Linked DNA regions of Homo sapiens: region 1 is linked to region 2. The links come from fine-mapping of genetic effects on gene expression. A gene starts in region 2. The other region holds a variant in brackets. All regions are shown on one strand. Distances are between the middles of the regions.

The links. PIP is the estimated chance that this variant, and not a neighbour inherited with it, causes the effect.
Region 1: its variant is fine-mapped to the expression of OCEL1 in sun-exposed skin (GTEx, PIP 0.98).

The regions. Positions count from the first base shown.
Region 1 is chr19:17,241,110-17,251,772 of GRCh38, reverse strand. It overlaps NR2F6 (nuclear receptor subfamily 2 group F member 6), which reads left to right and starts at 5,854. Exons shown (of 4, transcript NM_005234.4): 1 at 5,854-6,830. The coding sequence starts at 6,553. USHBP1 (USH1 protein network component harmonin binding protein 1) reads left to right here. Exons shown (of 13, transcript NM_031941.4): 12 at 69-191; 13 at 1,359-2,602. The coding sequence ends at 1,548. RefSeq lists enhancers at 2,073-3,021, 3,022-3,971, 4,921-5,870 and silencers at 5,134-5,213, 5,614-5,863, 6,264-6,423, 6,434-6,503. The variant C/T (reference allele first, on the strand shown) is at 4,449.
Region 2 is chr19:17,220,315-17,230,977 of GRCh38, reverse strand. OCEL1 (occludin/ELL domain containing 1) reads right to left here and starts at 4,752. Exons shown (of 6, transcript NM_024578.3): 1 at 4,662-4,752; 2 at 4,109-4,285; 3 at 3,779-3,984; 4 at 2,973-3,138; 5 at 2,669-2,722; 6 at 1,759-2,175. The coding sequence starts at 4,730. The coding sequence ends at 2,053. RefSeq lists enhancers at 3,484-4,157, 4,158-4,832 and silencers at 4,356-4,405, 4,426-4,545, 4,776-4,865.

The sequences.
Region 1 (10,663 bases), 21 kb before region 2:
GGTAGGAGGAGACCTGGGAAACAGGATCGGCTGGGGCTGTGAGCCCCCTCTCTTCTCCTTCGCAACAGGACACTGGACCTGCAGGAGCAGCTGCAGTCTCTGCGCAGGGAGCTGGAACAGGTGGCTCAGAAGGGGCGAGCCAGACGGTCTCAGAGTGCCGAGCTGAACAGGGATTTATGCAAAGCCCACAGGTAGGACTGTTCTGCATCCCCCCAATCCCCCTGGCACCATCCCCCACCAGGATATCAGAAGTATCCCTGGCTGTCTCTGGGCCTTAGCATTCCCCACTGCCCCAAGATAGGCAGTAACGGTCAGGTGTGGTGGCTCACACCTGTAATCCCAGCATGTTGGGAGGCTGAGGCCAGCAGATCACTTGAGGTCAGGAGTTTGAGACCAGCCTGGCCAACGTGGTGAAACCCCATCTCTACTAAAAATACAAAAATTAGCTAGGCGTCTTTGCACGTGCCTGTAATTCCAGCTACTTGAGAGACAGGAGAATTGCTTAAACCCAGGAGGTGGAGGTTGTGGTGAGCAGAGATCACACCACTGCACTCCAGCTTGGGTGACAGAGCAAGACTCTGTCTAAAAAAAAAAAAAAAAAAACAACAGGCTGGGCCAGGCGCAGTGGCTCACGCCTGAAATCCCAGCACTTTGGGAGGCCAAGGTGGGCAGATCACCTGAGGTCGGGAGTTCGAGACCAGCCTGACCAACATGGAGAAACCCCATCTCTACTAAAAATACAAAATTAGCCAGGCGTGGTGGCGCATGCCTGTGATCCCAGCTACTCGGTAGGCTGAGGCAGGAGAATCGCTTGAACCCGGGAGGCAGAGGTTGCAGTGAGCCGAGATTGTGCCATTGCACTCCAGCCTGGGCAACAAGAGCGAAACCCCATCTCAAAAAACAACAACAAGAAAAAACAGGCTGGGCATGGTGGCTCACGCCTGTAATCCCAGCACTTTGGGAGGCTGAGGCAGGCGGATCACCTGAGGTCAGGAGTTCAAGACCAGTCTGGGCAACATGGTCAAACCCTGTCTCTATTAAAAAATACAAAAAAATTAGCTGGGCGTGGTGGTGGGCGCCTGTAATCCCAGCTACTTGGGAGGCTAAGGCAGGAGAATCACTTGAACCCTCGAGGCAGAGGTTGTAGTGAGGGGAGATCTTACCATTGCACTCCAGCCTGGGTGACAAGCGCGAAATTCTGTCTCAAACAACAACAACAACAACAACAAAAGACCAGCTAGCTGGGACCCTTGGAGACCCAATGTGAAAGAGCCCCCATTCTGGGAGTGGGAGTACACGGCCCTTGCCTTGGGTGGACTCGGGGGCTGTTTCCTGACCCAGCCACCCACCCCTTCCAGCGCCCTGGTCCTGGCCTTCCGAGGAGCCCACCGGAAGCAGGAAGAGCAACGCCGGAAGTTGGAGCAGCAGATGGCACTCATGGAGGCTCAGCAGGCCGAGGAGGTGGCGGTGCTCGAAGCCACTGCAAGGGCCCTGGGGAAGCCCAGGCCTCCCCTCCCGCCTCCCCAGCTTGGGGACACCTTTCTGTAGGCCCCTTACCCAGCCATGTCTGGACATGCCAGACAGCTGTGGCATGTCATAAACTGTCCTGGAGTGACATCATGTCATGTTGCATGATTTGGCATGTTGGGGCACATTTGGCGTGAGGGAAGCTGGTGCACATGGGTGTCCAGGGCCTGATGGGGTGTGGCCAGGCAATGAAGAAAGACTCAGGTGTCTTTGGCCTGGCACCAAGTGGAATGTGAACTTCATATCAGTGGGGTCAGGCCAGAAGCAACCTGGGCTATGGGACCAGGTCCCTGGGACTGACGCATTTCGGGGGTCCGTGAGGTTGCATAGCCACAGCTGAAGTTCCAACTGGCCTGTCTCCCGAAGCCCAGGGAGGGATTCATGGGGACTGGACAGAGCTTCTCCTGGCAGCCCCTTCCCAGGGAGATGCTGGGTTTGGCTGGCAGATTTTCCTGAAGGGGGCCGGGCTCAGTGGTGCACATCTGTAATCCCAGCATTTTGGGAGGCCAAGGTGGGTAGATCACTTGAGCCCAGGAGTTCAAGACCAGCCTGGGCAACATGGCAAAACCCCATTTCTACAAAAAAATACAAAAATTAGCCAGGCGTGGTGGCATGTGCCTATAAAGATATTTAGGAGGCTAAAGTGGGAGGGTAACTTGAGCTTGGGAAGTGGAGGTTGCAGTGAGCTGAGATCACGCCACTGCACTCCAGTCTGGGTCACAGAGTAAGACCTTGTCTCAAAAAAAAAAACAGGCCAGGCGTGGTGACTCATGCCTGTAATCCCAGCACTTTGGGAGGCTGAGGCGGGGAGGATCACCTGAGGTCAGGAGCTTGAGACCAGCTTGGCCAACATGGTGAAACCCCCGTCTCTACTAAAAATACAAAAATTGGCTGGGTGTTGTGGCACATGCCTGTAATCCCGGCTACTCGGGAGACTGAGGCAGGATAATTGCTTGAACCTGAGAGGCGGGGGTTGCAGTGAACCGAGATCGCGCCAACAACAAGATCGTGCCCGGGCAATAAGAGCAAAACTCTGTCTCTAAATAAATAAATAAAACACAAAACAAAACAAAAAGGAGGGAGACTGAAGCTGGAATGGTTCAGATTCAGGGTGTGGATGACGAGTTGCTACTAACTCAAAGCTAAGGTCAAGGGTTTCTGGACTCCATGTGGTCGAGCTTGCCTGTAATCCCAGTATCTCAGGAGGCCGAGGGAGGAGGACTGCTTGAGCCCAGGGGTTTAAGACCAGCCTAGGCAAAATAGGAGAGTCTGTCTCAAAAATAAATAAATAAAATAAGGTAAAGGGTTTCTGGGTGGGGGACAGGCATAGCAAAGGTAATAGTCTGGGACTCAGGGGGCGTTGTACTTCAAGAGAAACTCAGAATGAATGCCAATGGTGGCCAGTTCCAGCTTTCTCCTGGGGGCCCAGGAGCTGTGGGACGTGTCAGGTTAATAGCAGGCAATGAATTAGCATGTCATTTGCATAAGTCACATCTCCCTGCCCCTCCACACCAGGACTGGCTGAGTCTGGGAAAGGGGAGCTTGGAACGACCCAGCCAAGCTTGGATTAGTGGCCAGCTGTCCCCCTTCAGGGTGGCAGCTGAAACCCGAGACAGGGATTAGAAAGACTTTCATTCCCAGCCTTGGGGGCAGGTGCTCCAGGCCTCACCTGTGCAGGTGTGTTCACCGCCTCTCCCAGGGCAGGACCACGTCAGCCTGAGGTCAGCGCCAGTCAGCGGCCTGGACTTGAATCCAGTCAACCTGACCCCAGAAACAGAACAAGAAGTATGGTGGCGAGCACAGTCCCCTCCAGCGAGGGCTGGGGCTAGTCACCTTCCGACCCACACGCTGTCCCTGGACTTGGGCCAACTTTGAAGAAAGCAGGGAAATGGAGGCAGACCACCTTGCTCGTGTTGGGGTGGGGCAGAGAAGCTGAATTTCTTCCCTGTACCCTGCCGAGCCCCAGAGTCTAAGACCTGAGTTCCTGGTCCCACCAGGTTGCCTGTGGAGGGGCAAAGGGAGCCAAGGTCACATGTGGGAGGACGGAGACAGGTTCCCAGGCTGCCCCAGCAGGATCTGGCCATTCCCACGGGTGCCCCCTCAGCAGATGGGCCTAGGCCCCTTTGTCCCTGGTTTGCGGCCGCCGCAAGGTCAAATGTTACTGCAGGGCCGCGGGCAGGGGTCAGGGAGGCGGGGTAGAGCCTTGATCCACCCCCAGGCGGGCCCCAGGGGGCACAGGGGTGGCCAGGCTACTGGAAGGGGGTGGGGCAGCCTTTGGGACTGGAACTACTGGAGTTTCTGGGATCTGCGATGGTCTTTCTTCCCCCATCTCCCACCCAGCTCTCAGCTGCCTCGCAAGACTTGTCTCCCCCAAACCTAGTTCTTTGCTCCCTCCCCTTCACAATCCCCTCAAGATTCCTTGAGTCTTCTCTCCCTCTTCTTTTTTTTTTTTTTTTTGAGACAGGGTCTTGCTCACGCTGGAGTGGAGTGACGTGACGTGATTATAACCCACTGCAGCCTTGAACACCTGGGCTCAAGACGGGTCTCACTTTATTGCCCCGGCTGGTCTTGAACTCCTGGTCTCAAGAGATCCTCCTGACTTGGCCTCCCAAAGTGTTGGGATTACAGGCGTGAGCCACAGCGCCTGTCTCTCATCTAAATCTCTTTTCAATCCCTTCTGAGACCTCCACCCCAATGCTCCCCACCAAAGATCCTAGCAGGTCCAGGCAAGGGGCCTAGGATCCCTGCCCTCATCCCAAATTACCAGTCACATTCCCATGCAGCCTCAGAACCAAAGGGTCGTCTCTGCCCACCCACGCCTTCCTCTCTCCCAGCAGGGATTACATCAGGCTGTGGGCAGAACCCGACTCTAGACCTCGGGAAGTCCTTGCTCATGTCTAATCCTAGTCCTTCCTGCTTTT[C/T]GTGTTTACTAACGCCTCCTCCTCCACCTCCCAGGCAGCCAGAACGTCCCTGGAGCAGGTTGAGAGGCCCAGGGCTGGGTGTGCCTGGCTCTCCCAGAACCTCAGTTTCTTTTTAAGTGTTGTAAGATCTCTAAGAATCTTTCCCCCTACTCCAGGGAGGGCAATTCTTCAAGTCTCATCAGGGCTCTGGGAGGCAGAGGAGGGGGTGCGCAGAAGGCACTGTCCTGGCCAGAGCTCTCAGAGGCCCAGCTGCATGCTCTGGTGTCCAGCTCTGGGCTCAGGGCGGGGTGGGACCACAGTCTGGGTGGCTGGGGCTGCAAGACTCCGAGGTGAAAGGTCACTCCTGGAAGGGCTTGTCCAGCCGGTTAAAGGTTAACCTGCCCAGAGCCAGAGGCTCGCCAGCCCGGGCCTCGCATACAAAGGGTGCTTAATAAATGCTGGTCGGGCGGGCCCCAGCCCCGGTACTGGGGGATGGGGTGAGTTGGAGGTGGCGGCAGCTGCGAGGCTCCAGGGCGCCTGGAAGAGACATCTGCAGTCCAGCCGGCCGCCAGGCCAAGCCCTTTCTGCAAAGCACAGAAAGAAAAGGAAATTAAAAGGGAAAAAGGGGCAGGCCCCCAGACAGGGCATGCCTGTCGCCTCCAGCCGCGCGGGGCGGGTGGGCGCCCTGCCCCCGGAGGCCAGAAATTCTGCAGAGGGGCCCCCTGACCTCGCGGCCCCGGCCAGCCGGTCTCAGACCACAACATCCCTTCCCCCTGGAGATTCCGGGCACCAGGTGTTAACCCGAGCAGAGAAAGGGTGGGGTGGGGGTCAGACGCGGCGACTTTCTGGAAGAGGAAGCAAACACAATCTAGGGTGTGTGTGTGTGTGTGTGTGTGTGTGTGTGTGTGTGTGTCTGTCTGTCTCGCGCGCGCGTGTGTCTTGCGCAGGGGCGTACCCCCCCCCCGGGTGCCACTGGCCCCCCATCATTGCTTTGCCAGGAACTGTGGGGTGGGGAGAGGTTCCGAGGGGCGCCTCGAGGGTGATCGAGCGACCCAACGTCCAAGGCCAGAGGTGGAGGGGAGGGCCTTGGAGAGACATCTTGGCGAGGCTCAAGGAAGGGCAGAGGGCAGGCGCGGCTGAGGCTCCCGCCGCGGCCCGGCAGGGGTTAAGGCCCGAGCTGGGCGAGGGCGAGGGCGGGGGTGCGGGGGGAGGGGCAGAGGGAGGCGGGGGAGGGTCAGGCCCCGCGGCCCAGCGCTCGGCCCCCGTCCCTCCCGCCGGCCCGTTCGCCCGGCGCCGCGCGCGGCCACCCATGCCCTTATAAGGGCGGCCGTCGCCGGGGCAACGAGCGCCCGCCCCCAGCCCGCGGCGCGCGCCCCTGCCCCCGCCCCCGCCCCCCGCCCGCCCCGCGAATGGAACGCTGTGTGTCAAACCGGCCGCAGCGCGAGGCCGGCGCGCGGGGTCGGTGGCGGTGGCGGCGGCGAGAGCGAGGCTTGGGCCCAGGCGCAGGCCCAGGCCAGGCAGGAGCGGCCGCAGCGGGGGCGGCAGCTCCAGAGGCGCCGGCCCAGCGGCCCTGCAGGCCCGGAGCGGCAGCCGCGGGCGCCGGGGGACCCAGGGGGCGCGGCGATCAGCCCCGGCGCGCACCCGCCGCCCCTCCCCCCCCGCCACGGGCGGCCGCGCAACTTGCGGCCAAACTTTCCCCCCGGCCTCCCGCGCTCGGATGGCGGCCCGCTGAGTTGGCCGCAGCCCCCGGGCGAGCGGCGGCCAGGCCAGAGGACGCCCCCTGCGCGGCTCGGGCCGGGCCATGGCCCGCGCGCCCCCGCCGGGGCCCCAGGGCGGCGGGACGCGAGTCCTCTGGGCCCCCGGCCCGCGCCTCTAGCGTGCCCCTCCCGGCCCCGGGCCCGGCCCCGCGCACGCGTGGGAAAGTTGGCCTGGAACCGGCCCGACCAGTTCCGCCCGGGCGCGAGGACCGGCCGCAGGAAGTTGCTGCAAAACTTTTTTGGGGGGTGCAGCCCGTGCCCCCCGCGCGCCGGGGCCGAATGCGCGCCGCGTAGGGTCCCCCGGGCCGAGAGGGGTGCCCGGAGGGAAGAGCGCGGTGGGGGCGCCCCGGCCCCGCTGCCCTGGGGCTATGGCCATGGTGACCGGCGGCTGGGGCGGCCCCGGCGGCGACACGAACGGCGTGGACAAGGCGGGCGGCTACCCGCGCGCGGCCGAGGACGACTCGGCCTCGCCCCCCGGTGCCGCCAGCGACGCCGAGCCGGGCGACGAGGAGCGGCCGGGGCTGCAGGTGGACTGCGTGGTGTGCGGGGACAAGTCGAGCGGCAAGCATTACGGTGTCTTCACCTGCGAGGGCTGCAAGAGCTTTTTCAAGCGAAGCATCCGCCGCAACCTCAGCTACACCTGCCGGTGAGCCCCCCATCCGCGCGCCGCCGCCGTGCACCCCGCCCCGACCTGGGGCAGGCCTCTGACCTGCTCGGTCACCTTGGGCCTGGCGCTGACCTTCCCTGGGCCTCCACTGCCCCCTCTGAGATAGGGGCACAGCACCCTCCTCCCGCATTCCATGGCTGGGATTGTGTATACAGTCGGCGCTACATCGTTGCAGGTTCCCCCCCCATCAGGTGGTCCCTGGAGGCTTTTGCCCCAGTTACTTGCTTCTCCTTCCCTCCGCTTTTTCTCTGGGGAGGGGTCATCTCCGCGCTGGGGTGGGGGTAGGGGTGCTGTCAGGGGTGGTAACCCAACCCCAGGGCACCCGTTCTCGGGGATCCCGGCGCGCGGGATGCCCTCGAGGGAATCGAACGTGGAACTTGGACCGTGGAGCTCGCAGCGTCCAGGGGCCATTGTCTGCGGCCGCGCGGATCGATACGGCGCGCCCTTGGGGTCAAATATCACTTCCAAAGTCGCTGTGGCTACGGAGGCGGCAGACGGAGGGAGGCTGGGGTGGCACGGGGCGGCCTTCTTCGCATGAGGGGCCCAGCGGTGGGGGTGGGGGTGGGAGCTGGGCTTGCCCATCTCAGGGAACCCCTCTGGGCTCACTCTGGGCCTTGGGTCACCGGAAATCGCCACTGGAAGGCCGGCAGGGCCACCGGAATTGACTGAAACGTCCCTCTCCCCCAGGGGTGGGTGCAGACCTGGGGCTCCTGGAAAAATCCCTCAAACTTTGGGTGTCTCTGAGACGGGCAGGGAGTGAAACGTTTCCGAGCAGGAGCCTTGGGCTGTCCCAGGTCGGAGACCTCTCTGGCAGGGCGTGGCCTTGCTAGCTGTTCTGGCGGAAGGTCCCCAGGGAAAGCGATCGGGGTTGTCCAGCCCGGGAGTTCTTTTCTCACCGTTCCCGGGCGAGCATCCGATCTGTCCGTTTATAAGCCCCTACTCTGCACCCCAGGAACATGCAGGGTCTCTGTGGAGCCCGTCTAGACGGTCTCAGTTCCCAGCTGCCCAAAACAGAGGCCCAAAGGCCCAGAGAGAGGTCCTGGTGCCTGCTTTGCGTTGGACATGGAGGGACGCTGCCCGAGTTGGGGGCACTGTGGGGGAACTGTGGGGCTAGGGTGGGGACCGCTGAGTTCGGATCGGAGTGGCCCCAGGGAGAACGGCTGATGGAAGGCTTGTTGGCTGAGGCCACCAAATAGGGCCCCAGGTACCCGAGGGTGGAGTTTGGCCCCAGGTCCCGGGTCAGGGCTGGCCTGGTGTGGCCATGTGTGGCAGAGCTGCCTTGCTCCCTCCTCCAGCACAAAGTGGGCCACTAGACTTTGGCCTCATTCTTGCTGCTGGAAAACCGCCTGCTCTCTGGTCATATCTTTAGGGAGGGTAAGGGAGGGGGGCTCAGGCAGTTTTGGGGTCCCAGGAGCTTCCTGAGGGTGGTGTCAGGGAGCAGCAATTTTGGGTGGGGGGGGCCTTGCTTGGAGCTGACAGGTTTGTGCTGTGTCAGTTGTGTGACCTGGTGAAATCACCATTCCATTCTGAGCTTCAAATGGATTGAGCAGGGTCTCGCTGGGGCCCAGCCTGGGTAGTTTGATGCCAGCCCCTCCAGAGAGACCCCAGCTCCAAGTCTAGCTCCTGAGAAGCCCCCAGTCTGGAGGAGACACAGTGAGACAGATGCCCCAAGTCTGTGGGATCTGGGGTCCCAGGGAGAGAGCAGAGGCTCTGCCTGGAGGTCAGAGAGGGCTGCCTGGAGGAGGCTAGGGGACATGAGCCTTGAAGCATGGAGTTGGCAGGTGGAAGAAAGGCCACAGGGACATGCCAGAATGTGGTCCAGACAAAACACTTAGTGGCAGACTGGGGGAGCTGTGCTGTAAGAGGGGGACTGTGCAGCCATGGGAGAAGTCAGAGCTAGGTGGGCCTGAAATGCTGGCTGAGGGTAATGGGGAGCCATAGAGGGTGTGTGAGCAGGAGAGGGCTCTGATCAAATTGGACTGGAGGCCAGAAGCCCAGGGAGGAAGCTGAGTTGGGCCATGGGGTTGGGCAAAAAAGCTTGCACTCTTTAGGTGGGATAACAGGAAGAACTTAACTGTTTCCCTCCTTGGAGGGATGGATCTGTCCCAATTCCACAGCTGGGGAAGTTGAGACTGAAGGTTCAGGGCCTCCCCTGAGGTCAGGGGCCCCTGAGCTGGGCCTCTGCCTGCCTGCAGGGCCGCCCCAGGCCAGGCCGTTTCCACCCGGCTGCCCTGGACCCTCCCACCACCCAGCCGCTGGGCTTTGTTCTGGTTCTGCCTGAGCTCCCTCTGCCCTAGTGGGGCCTCTTCCCAGGGGCTCAGTGGCTGGTGCTGCAGGACCCAGGCAGTGGTGGAGGGGGGGTACGGGGGAGTGGGCGCAGATCCTCAGCTTTCCTAAGTTGGGTTCTCCGGCTGGGCTCTGGGTCTTGGCACTGTCCCCCGTGAACCCCTCTGACCCAGTCCATCCCATATGATAGGGCAATATCTGACCTCCCATTTTCAGATGAGGAAACCGAGGCTCAGTGGGGCAGTCGCCACCTGAGGGGCAGGGCTGGGTATCTGCAGCTGAGATTCATCTGTTTTGTTTTGTTTTGTTTTGTTTTTGAGACGGAGTTTCACTCTTGTTGCCCAGGCTGGAGTGCGATGGCGTGATCTCAACTCACTGCAACCTCTGCCTCCCGGGTTCAAGCGGTTCTCCTGCCTCAGCCTCCCAAATAGCTGGGATTACAGGCATGCGCCACCATGCCCGGCTAATTTTGTATTTTTAGTAGAGACAGGTTTTCTCTATGTTGTTCAGGCTGGTCTCAAACTCCCAACCTCAGGTGATCCGCCCGCCTCGGCCTCCCAAAGTGCTGGGATTACAGGCATGAGCCACTGCACCCAGCCTTTTTTTTTTTCTTTTTTTTTGAGACAGAGTCTCACTCTGTCACCCTGGCTGGAATGCAGTGGGTCAATCTTGGCTCACTGCAACCTCCACCTCCCCAGTTCAAGCGATTCTCCTTCCTCAGCCTGCCAAGTAGCTGGGATTACAGGCATGCGCCACCACGCCCAGCTCATTTTTGTATTTTTAGTAGAGACGGGGTTTCACCATGTTGGCCAGGCTGGTCTTGAACTGACCTCAGGTGATCCACCCTCCCCCGCCTCCCAAAGTGCTGGGATTACAGGCGTGAGCCACTGCAGAGATGCATCTGTTTAATTCCCTTAAGTGGTGGTTCTACTCTGTGACTGTCTCTGTGTGTCCCCTGGGTGTCCAGCTGGAACCCCAGGGGTAGTTGCTCCAGGCCCAGGCCTTGGAGAGCCCCCAGCTCCTGGTGGCAAGAGACCAGGGGAGTCCAAGGGCAGGGGCCAAGGGGAGAAGGTTCTGGGGACATTTGAAGAATAAGGCCTGGACCTTCCTGCTTGGGGGCTGACCCAGGATGGGGAGCTCACCACCTCTCAGGGTGGGGCCACCTGTCTCATCCCTGCAAGAGGCAACGGCATTCACTGAGGGCTGACCAGGAAAATCTCCAGCTTGCATAGGGGTTGGGTGGTCCTCTCGGAAGAGCGTAGGTGTGGGGCCTTCAGGGCTGAGGACCAGAGTGACTTTGTTTACTTCCTCATTCCTTGGGGTGGGCATTGTGCGGGTGATAATGCTGGGGCCCCACAATGCTATGACCCCACAGACCACTAGCCCCTGGCCTGACCCCTAGTTAATTCACAAAGTCCAGCTCTCTGACCATGTCCTCTTTGCCTTCACATCTTTTTGGGGACAATGACCCTGCTCAGCCTGACAGTGACCAAATAAAATGAAACTCTTTAGGCCTCCATATTTGT
Region 2 (10,663 bases):
TTAAGTTCTGTGAACTCAGTCTCCCCCCTTTTGTGCCTGAGTCAATCTGACTTCAGTTTTTTTTCTCACATGGAACTAAAAATCTGTTTCAGAGATTGACGTTTGGGAGTCAGGCACCTACAAGGCCAAGACTTTGAAATGTGGGCTTCACTGGGTTGATACGGAATCATGTGGGGTACCAGGGACTCTCCCGTCCCAGCCTCGGGAGTGTGTGGCACAGCTCTGTGGTGGGAAAGGCACCTGTGGAATTCAGCACCAGAGCTGTAGGGCAGAGAGAAAGGGCCCGAATGGTGGTGGGGGTGGCACCTCTCACTGATGTCCTTCTGTAGCCAGGCGTGGTGGCAGGAGCCTGTAATCCCAGCTACTCGGGAGACTCAGGCACGAGAATCACTTGAACCTGGAAGGCGGAGGTTGCAGTGAGCTGAGATCGCACCACTACACTCCACTCTGGGCAACAGAGGAAGACTGTCTGAAAAAAAAAAAAAAAAGAAAGATGCCCTCCTGAAAACAGCAAGGGAAGAAGTCAAGTCTGTCACGCTGCCTGCTGGGCCAGTGCTCAGCTCTTAAGCAGCCCCAGTTTGCCAAAATGCTCCCTAGTCTCCCCATGTCCATCTTGAAGAAAGCCTTGGAAGACGAGAGATTAGGCCCCTCCTGTGGAGTCAGTGAGGGTTTCTTGTGGGCACGTTCCCAGAAGGGAACTGAGGCAGGGGCGGGATGGAGAGGACACCAGGTTCTCGTTGAAGGCTGCACTGGGTTTTGCATTAGGTCAGGGTCTCTCCATGGTGTCCTGTGAGTGAGTGGGTCCATGTCTACTCCAGTCAAACTGGACAGCAAGGTCTCATTTATCCAATGCACAGGACATCTGAGGGTTGAGTGAGACCATGGTGTCTGTCCTGCTGTTTGGCCCCAGGCCAGAGATCTGGATGTCTGTCCAAGGCCTGACTGCTGAACTCCTACTTTTCCTACAAAACCCTACCCACATGGCCCTTCCTGCGGGAAGAGATCTTGAGCCTCCCTGGCTATTAAGACTCTGCTGTGCAGCCTTCTTTTACTGGACTCAGGGCTATCTTCCCCAGACTAGGGCCTTCTTGAGGACAATCGTGGTGGCCCAGTGGTTGACGCTGTCTCCCCTGCATGTAGTTGGTCTTCCTGGTTGCTTCTTGCCCCTGTGGCTCCCTTGGGAGACTGAAACTCAGAGGACAGCTTCTGGTCTGCTGTTACATGGCTCCCACAGGGAGACTGGCCCCACCTGTGCCCCACCCATCACAGCTAGGGCCTGGGATGGGTCAGACACTGGAAGAGCCTCCCCCTAGGCCATGCATATGGACCGTGCCCACACACTGGGGTCAGTTGCTGTCCTGAAGTGCCCAGGGAGACACAGAGAGTGAAGAATCCAGCTGGACGTGGTGGCTCATGCCTGTAACCCCAGCACTTTTGGAGGCTGAGGTGGGCGGATCACTTGAGGTCAGGAGTTCCAGTCCAGCCTGGCCAACATGGTGAAACCCCGTCTCTACTAAAAATATGAAAATTAGTTGGGCATGGTGGCAGGTGTCTGTAATCCCAGCTACTTGGGAGGCTGAGGCAGGAGAATCACTTGAACCGGGGAGGCGGAGGTTGCAGTGAGCCAAGATCGTGCCACTGCACTCCAGCCTGGGCGACAGAGTGAGACACAGTCTCAAACAAAAACAAAAACAAAAAACAACTTTTTGTGTGTGTGACAACTGAGTGAAATCAGAAGTGTTAAGTAATTATACTCAGTAGGTGTCTAATACATGTTTATTTCACTGGGATGGAGAGCAGGCCCTACTTCCAGGGAACAGGTTGAGATCTGGAGTCCCTGTAGGGTCAGAGCTAGAGGACCCAGAGGAGGAAGTCCTGGAAGGCCTTCCTGGAGGAGGGGCTGTCAGAGCTGAGTCCAAACTGAAGAGGCATTTGCAATCCAGGAGAAAGCGACCCCTGGTAGGGGGAGCTGCAAGAGGAAAAGCTGAGAGATACCAAGAAATGCAAGGGACCTGCATCCCCATGCATCCCTCTGCCCATCTGCAGGGGCACTTAGAAGTACACGGAGCCCTCGCTGTCTCCTTGGTCATCGAATTTCTGGATCTGAGTCTTGAGATGCCTCAGTTTACCCTTCAGGTAGTGGCAGCGAGCCTGCTTGTCCAGGAAGCCAGGATCCTAGGCAGGGCGAGACCCGGAAGTCTTTGCAGCAGTCTGCCCTGTGGCCTTCAAGCTGCTTAACTCTCTGCCTTTCATTCTCCGAGCCTCAATTTTCTCTCCTTGAAACTGGGCACAGGCGACCGGGTGAGCCGGGCAAGGTGGCTCATGCCTGTAATCCCAGCAGTCTGGGAGGCCGAGGTGGGCGGATCACTTGAGGTCAGGAGTTCGAGACCAGCCTGGCCAACATGGTGAAACCCCATCTCTACTACAAATACAAAAATTTGCCAGGCACGGTGGTGGGCGCCTGTGATCCCAGCTGAGGCAGGAGAACCGCTTGAACCCGGGACGCTGAGGTTGCAGTGAGCTGAGATCATACCACTGCACTCCCGCCTGGGTGACAGAGCGAGATTCTGTCTCAAAAGAAAGAAAAAAAAAAGAAACTGGGCACAGGCACCCCAGCCTCACAGAAGTCTCAGGGGTGCAAGACCAAGCTGTGGGATGCAAGACTCACCATTCGCTTCATCTCAAACTCCCTCCAAACCCGGGCTGCAACTTGGGCCTCCTTCTGCAAGGGGAGGAGTAGAAAGGGGGTTTAGGGAGAGTTGAATTCAAGAAGGGATGAAGAAACTGAGGCTCAGACAGACTAAATGCCCATCTAGTGGGGACTTCAAGGGCTGACCTTAGCCATGTGTCACGGCGCCCAGCCAACCGAGAGGAGAAAGAGTCCTGGAAATCTGGACCCAGTGGGTGTCCCAGAGGCTTGGGTCGGGCCACTCAGAAGGGCTGCGGGGCAGGGCTTTCTCCCTAGTGCTGACCTGGCTTTGGGGTGGGGGCAGGGAGCTCAGCAGGGCCTCCAGCTGCCTGAGCTTTGCCTGTGCACACCCCACCTCGTGCTGGAGCTCCAAGAACTCTCCGTACTGGTCCTGGAACACTGCGACATAGCGGCTCCGTTCCCTCTCACTGCTCACTGGCGGGTACTTACTACCAGGTTGAAGAGGGTCAGAGTGTGAGTGTAAAGAACCCCACTCTTTCCCCCAGTCAGTGTAATTTGCTTTTCTTTGTCCATGCTGGGCCCCTACTAGAAACGTTCCTTTTCTCTCCCTCTTTTAATTTATTTATTATTATTTTTTGAGATAGAGTCTTGCTCTGTTGTCCAGGCTGGAGTGCAGTGTAGCGATCTCAGCTCACTGCAACCTCCACCTCCCGGGTTCAAGCAATTCTCCCACCTCAGCCTCTTCAGTAGCTGGGATTACAGGCATGCGCCACTATATCCAGCTAATTTTTGTGTTTTTAGTAGAGACGGGGTTTCACAATGTTGGCCGGGCTGGTCTCGAACTCCTGACCTCAGGTGATCCGCCTGCCTCAGCCTCCCAAAGTGCTGGGATTACAGGCATGAGCCACCGCGCCTCGCCTATTTATTTATTTATTTTCGGAGACGGGATCTCACTGTGTTGCCCAGGCTGGAGTGCAGTGGCTTATTCACAGGGACAATCCCACTACTGATCAGCAAGGGATCCTTTCCTTTCTACTCTTTGGTAAACTCTTATTCAACTATCAAAGCCCCAGCCTCAGTGCCCCTCTCCTGATCCCAGGCATGAAGAATCACATGGGGGACACTCACAGCTCATAGTCGGGCACTGGGTGGGGCCTAGGCTTATGCCCCTTAGGGATGGCTCCAATAGGCTTCTTGGCGCCCAGGAGGGCCTGGGAGAGCAACTCATCCTCAAACACAATCTTCTTGGTCTTTGCCTTGTGGGGTCCCGGCTGGGGCTGGCACGGAGGGCGGGGGGCGCTGGTTTTGAGGCCTCGGGGCGCCAGTCCCTGCAGCTGCCACAGGAATCGTGGTCTGGAGTTAAATCGGGGTGTCGGGAAACCGGAGTCCCTCAAACTGGAGGGGCTAAATCTTTTGCCTAGAGGCCCGGCCTGGGGACCCCCTCCCGGTCAGGCTCACCGGGGGCCCAGGCCCAGGCGGGTGAGTATGCAGGTGCCCCCGGGAGCCGCGAGTCTTTGGGGGCTCCCGGGTGGGCATCGGCCTCCGGGAGAAGCAGCTCAGGGGTTTCCGGGCTGATGGGCGGGTCCTGCGGGGGGCGTCGTGTCCCGCGCGCGGCGGGGGTGGTCTGCGGGCGGCCTGTGGGTGGACACGCGGAGAGGACACGCCTGACGACGCGCACGGAGAAAGGACGCGCGGGCAGCTCGGCCGAAGAGCGGCCAACTCTCACCCCGCGGGAGCAGAGTTCCCCAGAACGACCGCTATTTGCATAGACGCACGCGATTGGTCCGCAGCGACGTCCAGACCCCGCCCACGACTGCGCAACCCAAATAAGCGCTATGTAAATGAACTCTGACGTCGCCGCGCAGCCTGGGACCGGCTCGAGTTAACCCCCGCGCTGCCGGAGCCTCGACCTCCAGGGCGCGCAGAGCCCACAGACGACCGCGCCCGAGGAGCTCCTCGGGACCTCCGCCCCACCTGCAAGGCCGTCCGGCTCGCTACCGCCCCGGGTCACCTGTCCCAGCGTCTGGAGCTCCGAGCCTGGATCTGCTGTCGGAGAGGCACTTCCGTCCGGGTTGTGCATTTACTGCAGGATGGACCCGACTGGCGGGGTCGCTCAGCAGGGCTGGGGGCGGGGTCTGACGAAAGGGGGCTGGGCCTGACGGCCTGGGGGCGGGGCTGACCTGGCTGGGCGTGGCCACACACCTTCGAAACATGGTCGACTCCGACCTCGACCCTCAAGTTTGTCTGAAAAAACGGGATGGTTTTGCAAATTTAAACTTATTTATTTTTTTCAGCAATTATATGAAAAAAATTTTTTAACAAGAGTCTCACTTGCCCAGGCTGGAATGCAGTGGCGTGATCTCGGCTCACTGCAGCCTCCGCCTCCCGGGTTCAAGCGGTTCTCCTGCCTCCGGCTCCCGAGTAGCTGGGACTACATGCGCACACTTCCACGCCCAGCTAATTTTTTGCTGTTGTTGTTGTTTGTATTTTTAGTAGAGACGGGGTTTCGCCACATTGGCCAGGCTGGTCTCAAACTTCTGACGTCAAGTGATCCGTCCGCCTCGGCCTCCCAAAGTGCTGGGATTACAGGTGTGAGCCACCGCGCCCGCCCGGAGTTTCGTCATTTTAGCCAGGCTGGTCTTGAACAGCTTCCGGGACTCAAGCAATCCGCTTGCCTCGGCCTCCCAAAGTGCTGGGTTACAGGCGTGAGCCACCGCACCCGCCCCTTTCTTTCTTTTTCTTTTATTTCTTTTAAGGGCGAGCAGGTGGTGTTAGATGGCATCTTTACTGAACAGTACTGTTCCTGGCAGAGCAGAGCTAACTTATAGACAGTGTGCCCCAAATCGGCCTTTTATATATATATATATAGAGAGAGAGAGAGAGAGAGGCTGTGTTGCCCAGGCTGGAGGGCATGATCATGGCTCACTGTGGCCTCGACCTCCTTCCTAGCCTCAATTGATCCTTCCACCTCAGCCTCCCAAATAGCTGGAACCACAGGTGACACAACGCCTCCCTAATTTTTGTGTTTTTTGTAGAGACGGGATCTCGCCGCGTTGCTCAGGCTGGTCTTGAACTCCCGAGTTCCAGCAATCCACCCGCCTCAGCCTCCCACAGTGCTGGGATTACAGGTGTGATCCCATAATCGTGCTTGGCATTTTTTTTTTTTTTTTTTTTTTTTTTTTTTGAGAGGAAATGTCCTTATGGGTCCAGGCTGTTTTCCAACTCCTGGACTCAAGCGATCCTCCTGCCTCAGCCTCCTGTCTGGGATGTGTGTATTTTACATTTGGAACATACTGCCAAGTTACTCCTTAGTGAGATTGTACCATTTATGCTCCAAGAGATACAGGGGTTTTCCCACAACCTTGGCGGCACTGGCATGATAACGGATTCCCTCACCTGTACTTTCTTTTCTTTTTTTTTTTTTTTTGAGACGGAGTCTCGCTCTGTCTCCTAGGCTGGAGTACAGTGGCGCGATCTCGGCTCACTGCAAGCTCCGCCTCCAGGGTTCAAACCATTCTCCTGCCTCAGCCTCCTGAGTAGCTGGGACTACAGGCGCCCACCACCACGCCCGGCTAATTTTTTCTATTTTTTAGTAGAGACGAGGTTTCACCGTGTTAGCCAGGATGGTCTCGATCTCCTGACCTCGTGATCCGCCTGCCTCGGCCTCCCAGCGTGCTGGGATTACAGGCGTGAGCCACAGCGCTGGCCCCTCACCTGTACTTTCAAAGTTGAAAATATTGCCTACTAAGGCTAGGCGCGGTGGCTCACGCCTGTAATCCTAACACTTTGAGAGGCCGAGGCGGGCGGATCACAAGGTCAGGAGTTCGAGACCAGCCTGGCCAACATAGTGAAACCCCGTCTCTACTAAAAATATAAAAAATTAGCCAGGTGTGACGGCGGGCGCCTGTAATCCCAGCTACTTGGGAGGCTGAGGCAGGAGAATCGCTTGAACCCGGGAGGCAGAGGTTGCAGTGAGCCAAGATTGCGCCAGTGCACTCCAGCCTGGATGACAGTTGAGAGACTGTCTCAAAAAAAAGGAAATATTGCCTAGTGTATGAGTGAAAAAATTTAGAGACTATTTCTCTATTTCGTAATTCTTTTCCTGTTATATCCTGCAAATGTTTTTTCTTGTTGATTTTTAGAAGTTCTTCAAATGTCAGCCGGGCAAGGTGGCTTATGCCTGTAATCCCAGCACTCTGGGAGGCCGAGGTGGGTGGACCACTTGAGGTCAGGAGTTCAAGACCAGCCTGGCCAGCATGGTGAAACCCCGTCTCTACTAAAAATACAAAAATTAGCCAGGCATGGTAGCACACACCTGTAATCCCAGCTACTCAGGAGGCTGAGGCAGGAGATCACTTGAAACCGGGAGGCGGAGGTTGCAGTGAGCCACGATTGTGCTGCTGTACCACTCCAGCCTGGGCGACTCCAAAAAAAGTTCTTCAAATGTCAACAAAATTCGTTTAAGCAGGCAGTGTATCTTTTTTTATTGCTGCTATAAATGGGATGCTTTAATACATTTTAAAGCTATATACATATATAGTATACAAGAAATGAATTTTTAAATATCTATAAGTCTCTTGCTAGCTTAAGGAATTCTTTTATTGAAATATTTTTAGTCACATCGCTTGGGCCTATCATATATACGGTCATATCATCTGCAAATAATTTTGCCTTCTCATTTCTTATTTTTCTTCTCTTATTTTTCAATCTCATTTCTTTTTTTCTTGTTGTTTGTTTTAGAGATGGGGTCTCACCGTGTTGCACAGTCTGGAGTGCAGTGGCACGATCATAGCTCAGTGCAGCATGATCACTTGGGCTCCTGGGCTCAAGTGATCATTTGCCTCAGCCTCCTGAATAATTGGTACTATAGGCACGCACCACCACACCTGGATAATTTTTTTTTTTTAGACGGAGTCTTGCTCTGTCTCCCAGGCTGGAGTGCAGTGGTGTGATCTCGGTTCACTGCTACCTCCGCCTCCTGGGCCAAGCAATTCTCCTGGCTCAGCCTCTTGAGTAGCTGGGATTACAGGTGCCCGCCACCATGCCTGGCTAATTTTTGTATTTTTAGTAGAGACAGGGTTCTACCATCTTGGCCAGTGTGGCCTGGTGAGCCAACCAGGTGGCCTACACCTGGATAATTTTTAAATTTTTATTGGTAGAGATGGGGTCTCGCTATGTTGCCCAGTCAGGTCTTAAACTCCTAGGCTCAAGCAGTCCTCCTGCTTCAGCCTCCCAAGTAGTTGAGACTAAAGACATGAGCCACCATGCCTGGCATTTTATTTATTCTATTGACAGGGTCTTGCTATTGTTGCCCAGGCTAGTCTCTATCTTCTGGCCTCAAGCAATCCTCCTGCCTCAGCCTTTGAAGTATCTGGGACCACAGGCGTGCACCACCATATTTGGCCCCATTTCTTTTTTTCTTTTTTTTTCTTTTTTTTTTTTTTTGAGACGAAGTCTCGCTCTTTTGCCCAGGCTGGACTGCAGTGGCGCTATCTTGGCTCACTGCAAGCTCTGCCTCCTGGGTTCACGCCGTTCTCCTGCCTCAGCCTCCCGAGTAGCTGGGACTACAGGTGCCCGCTACCATGCCCGGCTAATTTTTTTTTTGTATTTTTAGTAGAGACGGGGTTTCACCGTGTTAGCCAGGATGGTCTCGACCTCCTGACCTCTAGATCCACCCGCCTCGGCCTCCCAAAGTGCTGGGATTACAGGCGTGAGCCACCGCACCCAGCCTCTTTTTTTCGTCTAGTTGTGCTGACTACCACCTCAAGACTATGTTACATTATGGAGGCAGGGCGACTGTAAGCATCCTTCCCCATTCCATTCCCCCCGTTTTTTTGTTTTTGTTTTTTCAGATGGAGTCTCATTCTGTTACCCAGGGTGGAGTGTAGTGGTGCGATCTTGGCTCACTGCAACTTCTGCCTCCTGAGTTCAAGTGATTCTCCTGCCTCAGCCTTCTGAGTAGCTGGGATTACAGGTGCGTGCCACCATGCCTGGCTAATTTTTGTATTTTTGTAGAGACCAGGTTTCACCATATTGGTCAGGCCGGTGTCGAACTCCTGAGCTCAAGTGATCTGCCTATCTTGGCCTCCCAAAGTGCTGGGGTTACAGGTGGCTTTAGCCACCGCACCTGGCCTATTCCTCATTTTGATGGCAGAAGTTTTGAGTATTTGCCCATTAAAGTCAATGCTCCCTTTGGCTTGAGATTTTTCAGTGAAGTGAGGAACATGTCCATCTATTTCCTTTCTTTTTAAATTAGGAGACTTTGGGTAACGGAGGCTAAACAGTACAATTTGTCATTTCAGCATCTGTGATTTTGTTTTCTGAGGCATTAATGTAGCTGGCTTTTGTTGTTGTTTGAGACAGGGTCTGGCTCTGTCACCCAGGCAGGAGTGTAGTGGTGTGATCACAGCTCACTGCATCCTCGAACTCCTGGGCTCAAGCCATTCTCCTGTCTCAGCCTCCCAAGTAGCTGGTAGTATTTTTTGTAGAGACAGGGTTTTACCATGTTGCCCAGACTGGCCTTAAACTCCTGAGCTCAAGTGGTCCTCCCACCTCAGCCTCCCACAGTGCTGGCATTACAAGGTGTGAGCCACGGTGCCCTGGCCAACGTGGCTTTCTAATAAGGAATCATCCCTGTGTCTCAGGCATAAACTTCCTTTTTTTTTTTTTTTTTTTTTTGAGTAGGGGTCTTACTCTGTCACCCAGGCTGGAGTGCAGTAGCATGATCACTGCTCACCGTAGCCTCCAGTCCCTGGGCTCAAGGGGTCCTCCTGCCTCAGACTCCCCAGTAGCTAGGATTACAGGCGTGAGTCACCATGCCTGGCTGTCTCCTTCTTATGATCTTTTTTTTTTTTTTTTTTTTTTTTTTGAGATGGAGTCTCGCTCTTGTCGCCCAGGCTGTAGTGCAGTGGCGTGATCTCGGCTCACTGCAACCTCCGCCTCCTGGGTTCAAGCAATTCTCCTGCCTCAGCCTCCCAAGTAGCTGGTATTACAGGTGCCCACCACCATGCCCAGCTAATTTTTTGTACTTTTAGTAGACATGGGTTTTCACCATGTTGGCCAGGCTGGTCTCGAACTCCTGACCTCAGGTGATCCGCCCGCCTCAGCCTCCCAAAGTGCTGGGATTACAGGCATGAGCCACCACGCCTGGCTCTATGTTCTACTTTTTAAAAGCTGCCAGTAGCACTTTTAAAAATCTCTACTTGGGCTGAGCACAGTGGCTCATGCCTGTAATCCCAGCACTTTGTGAGGCCAAGGCAGGAGGATTGCTTGAGGCCTGGAGGTCGAGGCTGCAGTGAGCTATGATTGCACTACTGCACCGTAGCCTGGGCCACAGAGCGAGACCCTGTCTCAAAAACAAAACAAAACAAAAAAAACCACACAACCCTACCTAAGGATTTTACACCCACGTCAGTGGGGGTCCACTGGGCACCTCCAAGTGTCCCCACAATGCCGTCAATGCTGCCATGGGGCAGACACCCCAAGCCCTCGTCACTGAGCCCCCTCAGTTGCTCTCACAGGCTGTGCCCTGTCTGGAGCTGGTGTGAGAGCAGGGCTCAGGACCCCAGAATTCCTACTCCACGACCCTTTTCAGGACCCCTACCCTAGTACTCACCCAGTTCTCCTTTGAAGTGATCAGACTGTGACCTGGGGAGGGCAGAGTCTCCAGTGAGCACTGGGCACGACCCATGTGTGTTTGTCGAGTGACTGTGAGGGATCTGTAGTGTCCCGAGAGCTGAGGCTGCAGTGTGGCTGAGCTGTGTCCTTGAACTATTGCCTTTAATTCCAGGGAAGACCTCGTGTTGATGCGCCCTCCTCCAGGCTGAGCTCCTGTCATGGCCCCACTCCTCCCCGACCCTCCAAGCCCCTGTTCTGCCCTTTGGCCTCACCCTGGCCTTACATCGCTGAAGGCACTGTGTTCGGCTACAAGTCTGCCAGTCGGAGGCTCCTAGGGCCTCCTGGGGCTGGGCCTCGTCCATTGTGGGGTAGGCTCCAGAGGAACATGGGCGGAGG